Regions from separate parts of the Homo sapiens genome. Here region 2 is linked to region 1. The links come from fine-mapping of genetic effects on gene expression. A gene starts in region 1. The other region holds a variant in brackets. All regions are shown on one strand. Distances are between the middles of the regions.

Region 1 (2,906 bases):
ACCATCCTTGTCTTATTCAAGGTGGGCCGTTCATTTCTTAAAATTACCAGTGAGCAACATGGGAAGCAGCAGAGACGGCTATCGATTACCCCGTAGGGAGTGCCTGTGCTGAATGCCAAGGGCTTCCCTTTCCTGACAGACATCTTTTATGCAGCTGAATCATCTGTATGCAAAACATCAGCCAACGGTGCCTCGGAAAAACAACTGGCTGCTGGGCAAACCAGGTGTGGGCTCCAGCTTCCACCTGCTACTACTGTCGTGCAGCCACGGGCACTCTGGGTGATCCTCACTGGCCTGGGGCTGGTCATCTGCTGCTAGATGACCTTCGCTGACTCTCTACATTGATATTCCGACACAGTGTTCTCTAGAAACCGCATGAGCCAGGAAAGGTGTTTCCTAAAGGAGCAGGGGCCGAGCCTCACGCCGAAACACGTCTGTAACACGTACAGTCACGCGTCCCATGCATCCATGCATTCTGAGACATGCGTCTCGGTTGTGGGATCATCACAAGGTAACTTACACAAACTCAGATGGCACAGCCACTACACAACTAGGCAGCTGATGCGGTCCGCTGCTGCTAGGCCGCAAACCCGCACCGCGTGTGAGGTGCGTTATTCCCCTGGCACGGTAATGACATACCTGTACGTGTATCTCCAAATACAGGAGAGGAAATGTCCTTAGCTAAGCCCTCACCAGAGGACAGGAAGTTTCCAGCTCCGTTATCATGTTATGGGACCACCGTCATATACACGGTCCTCCTCAGACCAAAAGGTCGTTCGTTATACGGCACATGTGGTTCTTCCAAGACCCTTTTCCATCTTTCTGTCACATCCGTGCCTGAGTAAAAAGTGGCCCTGAACTCAACCGTCCAGAGTTGGCGGCAGAACTAGCACCACTGGCCCGCTCCACATGTGGAAGGCGCTGGGCAAGGGCCGCCGCAGACCCCATCAGGATTAATCCCCCGAAAACCTTTCACTCGGGTAGCTGGCACACACCGCGTCAGGGCAGAGGGCGCGCGGGACTACTTTCCGCGGACCCTCGGAGCGGGCGGAGGGATCCGCGCAGGCGGGACGGGGCAGAGGCGGGGGCAGGGGCGGGGGCAGGGGCGGGGGCAGGGGCGGGGCAGAGGCGGGGCAGGGGCGGGGCAGGGGCGGGGGAAGGGGCGGGGAAAGGGGGTGCGGGCCGGGGCGCGGTCAGGGAGGAGGGCGGGGGCCAGGACCGGGAGCTCGGGGCACTGCGCCTGCGCCGTCGCCACCGGTCAGCCCGCGCGAGGGGTCGGCGTTCATTCCTGCCGCTGCCGCCGCCGCCGCCGAGGTCCCGCACCAGCCATGGCGCAGATCCTCCCTGTTCGCTTTCAGGAGCACTTCCAGGTGAGGCCCGGCGGGCTGGGGGGCTGCCCTGTCAGCCGCGCCTCCGCCGGGCCGGACTGCCAGGCTTGACCCCGCGCCCCCAGCCCCGCTGAGCCGCTGCCCAGCTGGCCGCGCCGATTTCCGACCTCCCACCTGGGCTGGGGCTGCGGCGTCCCGGGCGCGGCGGCCGCTCCTGAGGACCCGCTTGGGTGCCGTCGCCGAAGCCCGTTACCGGCGGGGCCGGCTGGGGAATGGTGGGGGTGGAAGCCAACGCCCCCTGGGACGCCCCGCTCAGTGCCCGCGAGGAGGCACACAAATTCCCGCTGCAGGCAGGGCAACCCAAGGGCCGCGCGGATCCCACAGCTCCACGCCCCTCCTTGGCGTCCTGCGGTCCTTATTCGCCCCTGAGTTTGCCTCTGTGATCGGTTTTCGTCCCCAGGGCGGCTTCGCCTGGGAGGACCGTGAACATGCGTGACCCAAGAGAAAAATTTCTCAGGGCCAAGCCTAAATAGGGCTTTTCAATGCAGTAACACCCCCAAAGCCTGCCTTTTTAATAAGGTCCCAGTTTGTTCTCCATTTGTTTGTGTTCAGAAACATAAGGACTGGCCCCCTGCTTTGAGCAAAGGCTCAGGTCGGGCGTCGTGCGGGCCGCTCGCGGGTCTGCCCGGGAGCGGTGCTGGTCCCCACGTTTACCCTGGGAGGTGCGGCAGAGGAGGGATAGCCAGCGGCTCCTCCCTGAGTGCTCTGTGTTAAATCATCACACTACCATTCGTTGCGATTCGCTTACTCTTTTCTAGATGAGGAAACCGAGTCTCAAAAGTGTTAAAGAACTCATCTTCATTCAATAAGAACAGGATTCAGACTCAAGTCTTTTTGACCACAAAGTAGTACATCGAGGAACGTGCTTGCTTGAAAGTTCCTATTTTCACAGTGCAGAGCACTGTTAGCCCTAGATGCAGACGGGAAAAGCCTTGGGAACTGTGTAGTGCAGTCCAGTCCCCTCATTCTGCAGACTGGAAACTTGATATCCAGGGGATCCTGCCAGGGTCACTTGGTTAGTGACACAGTGGAAGTTGTATGGAGGTGGGAGTGCCCTGACATCTGTCCGGGCTTCATTCTGCCACTAAGCTAAGCCAGCACCAGTCATGTTGAGGTAGCAAAATACTGCTGCTGCTCATAATAATGATGATGATGTAGTTATCATTTACTGAGCCGTTTCTCTTGCCACTCACTAGACTACTGTATTTTATAAATCTGGTTTAATTTAATCCTCATGATAACTGAGGCAGATAGTGATATCCTGTTTTCTACCATGGGTCACTGAGGTTAATATTCTAATTCCTTCAGCAAAAGTTACATGGCTAGTAAGTGACAAAGCTTGAGTTCTAACCCAGGTCTGATTCCAATGCCTGTGCTTAACCACTATCTAAATATGTTCTTTTCAAAGGGCAAGAAAGCAACAAGATATTTTAGGTGTCCATCAGAGTTTCTAATGTCCATCAGGATTTGTAATGTCCATCAGAGTTGATATGTTCCATTATCTGGAAAATGCTTGTG
Region 2 (2,826 bases), 110 kb after region 1:
AGGAGCGGGACACTGACTGGGAGCTTCCTGGGGGCTGCTTCTACTGGAAGTCCTCTGGGAAGGCAGTGAGACAGTCCCCAAGGCCCACAGAGGAGGAACAGAGCAGGGCCCACTTTAGGCACATGTGGAAGACAAGTCAGCAAGGGTAGGCTGGGCCGGTGGAGGGCACGGCAGGGAGACAGATGAGCGGGCGTCACAGGTCCTCAAAGCGGAGACCCAAAGGCACCTGGAGCTCTCACCTGAGGGTCAGAATCCTGGTGCCTTTGTAGGAACAGTGTGGGTCAGGAGGCAGCGATCGATGAGCAGCATGCCAGCGGGGGAGACTTCTTTCCGGAGCCAGCTCAGCACATCGGGTCCATGCAGATGTGGGCACTGGGCGTCCTCAGGGGTCTCCCAAACGGAACTCAGAGGTGTGTGCTGCAGGCGATGGCAGGCATGCAGAGCTGGGACCGCCACAGGGTATCCCTGGAGAGCACAGGTCACAGTCAGTGGATCATGGCCAACTCCAGGTGGAGTGGCCCTGGGCAAGTGACTACATCTGGGTCTCAGGTTCCTGGTCTCTGAATGGGGTACTAATAGCCCCTGCCATAGAAGGAATCAGGTGATCCAGTGCCTGCTGTGGAGCTAGAAAATAGAGAATGGCCACAGAAAGTGCAGGCTTCTTCAGGACTGGTCAGGTGCAGGTGTTATTTTGTCAATGATATTGTCTTAGACAAATACATTTGCAAGGATGAAAATAGCAGTTAGGGGTTTTTGAGCCACTTGAAAGAAAAACACATTGCTGTTTCTAGAGCAGTAGCCGTACCCCTCCTAACTGCTCCCCTGGTGTCACACGCTCCATGGACCTGAGTGCAGCACCTCTGCAGCAGCCCCACAACCCCCAAACTCCCATCAGTGCCTTCCTCAGAGCAGCCTGTGCACGCCCTCTGCCCTCGGGGCTAGAGTTCCTGTCTCCCAGGGCACCTGCGCCTCCGTGAGCCACCTGTCCCCTCCAGAGCCTCCGGAGGTGGCATCTCCGTTTCACCAGTGGGCAGCAGGGCATAGGGAATGGCCCAGCCATGGGTCCAGGCTTGCTCCACAGCGCAGGAAGTCCTTGGTGGAGTCTAGTGCCACTCCCTGCCCTCCGGCCCAGCTGCTGCAGGCACAAAGCCTCTGCCTGCAGGATGCCCAAGCAAGCATTTGCCTTGGCTGCAGGATGCCATGCAGCATGCTGCAGAGTCGCGGGATGCTGAGCTGGCCCAGAAGTTGCTGCAGTGGTTCCTGGAGGAAGGCAAGAGGGAGTGCTTCGCAGCTTGTCTCTTCACCTGCT[ATGACCTGCTT/T]CGCCCAGACATGGTGCTTGAGCTGGCCTGGAGGCACAACCTCGTGGACTTGGCCATGCCCTACTTCATCCAGGTGATGAGGGAGTACCTGAGCAAGGTAGGTGCCGGGCCGGCTGCAGCTCCCCGGCCCCTGTGTGGCATGACCCAACCCTGGCAGTGACTCTGGCCGCAGGTCTTAAGGGTGGGCCCCTTTGAGGCCAACCCAGATTCCCCAGCCAGCCCTGGCTGCCTTCAGGAGTGGCTGCTTTCCTTCATGCTGAAGTGGTTTTCTGCCCAACGTTAAGCCCCTCCAGAAAATCATCATGGGGAGTGCCCACTGGCAGCAGCCCTCCTGTAGACTCTGGCTGGGCAGCTGTCCCAATGTGCACACTGCTAGGAGCACAACAGGCGTGCTCATCCCCAGCCCTGGACTTCAACAAGGTGACAGTGAGGTGGCTGGCAATCCCAGCTCCCTGAGGAGCTCCCAGTGGCGTCTGGGGGTGCAGCTGTTAGCATACGGTTGGTGGTAGCTGCCTTTTGCTGAACACATAGTAGGAGTATTCACAGATCCACTGAATCCTTCTAACAGCTATAGGGAGGATGACTCTCTGCCTCATCGAAGTGACAGTACTTGATTGTAAAACTCTCCCTGGGTGTTGAAGTCCTAGGAGTCCCTGCTGGGATCTAGCTTTAGCCACTGTCCAGAGACCTGTGTCAGCAGTGTCATCTGGTACAGTTTGTTGTTTCTAACACTGGAAAAGCTACTTCCAGTAGCATCTACTTGCCTATCTAACCTCCTTCAAGCCAGATGGAGAGCCTCGGAAGGCACTCATGCTGAAGCATCACTCAGTGGAGCGAGGGAAGGGAGGGGCCTCCCAGGTGAGTGGGAGGTAGGAAGGAAACAGGAAGGCGGGCTCATGCTGCCAGCTTTAGCCTGGAGGGCTGCCTGCCGCCTGCAGAGCCTCCAGGGGGCTGCCCAGCCCCTGATAAAGGCCATCCCAGAGTCCATTCAAGGCCGTTGCCCTCCTGTAGGACAGTGTGACCCCATCCCATCTGCATAGCATGCCTGAGTGAGACTCCCTGATGACTCTCAAGGGTTGGGGAGGAAGGGACAGCCCTGGCTACGTGGCCTGAGATTCGTGGGCTGCCAGGGGACATGGACTGGTTGGATTGACAAGGGCCCTGGTTCCCCCACCACAGTGGATGGCAACTCCCTACAGGCGGCACGTGTGGTATGTGGTTTGTGGTATGCAGTGTGTGGTGTGCGGTGTCTGGTGCGTGCCTGTGGAAGCTGCTGTCACCATGATGAGCAGGTTTTCCCATCCCTCGGGTGTCTTTCCTGAAAGTAGTCTGTGTTCTGAGAACCAGCACAAGGAAAGAAAGTGCTTGAATCTCTTCCTGGCAGTAGAGGCCCGTGGGTTAGTGTCAGAGGAACTCAGGCTCACCAGGCCCTAGGGAGTGTCATTGCTGTGGGGGTCAAAGTGCTTGTGGGGATCCCCCAGGACTTTGAGGCGCACATTCCCTTTCT

Evidence for each region. PIP is the estimated chance that this variant, and not a neighbour inherited with it, causes the effect.
Region 2: its variant is fine-mapped to the expression of CLTCL1 in whole blood (TOPMed, PIP 0.92).

What each region holds. Positions count from the first base shown.
Region 1 is chr22:19,290,064-19,292,969 of GRCh38, reverse strand. CLTCL1 (clathrin heavy chain like 1) reads left to right here and starts at 1,251. Exons shown (of 33, transcript NM_007098.4): 1 at 1,251-1,370. The coding sequence starts at 1,329. It overlaps LOC105372859 (a long non-coding RNA gene), which reads right to left and starts at 1,023. Exons shown (of 6, transcript XR_938002.3): 1 at 640-1,023. RefSeq lists silencers at 1,133-1,372, 1,254-1,438 and an enhancer at 1,549-2,062.
Region 2 is chr22:19,181,980-19,184,805 of GRCh38, reverse strand. It overlaps CLTCL1 (clathrin heavy chain like 1), which reads left to right. Exons shown (of 33, transcript NM_007098.4): 30 at 1,195-1,416. Among named protein-coding and RNA genes, the nearest start is that of SLC25A1, 4.7 kb to the right of the region's middle. The variant ATGACCTGCTT/T (reference allele first, on the strand shown) is at 1,310.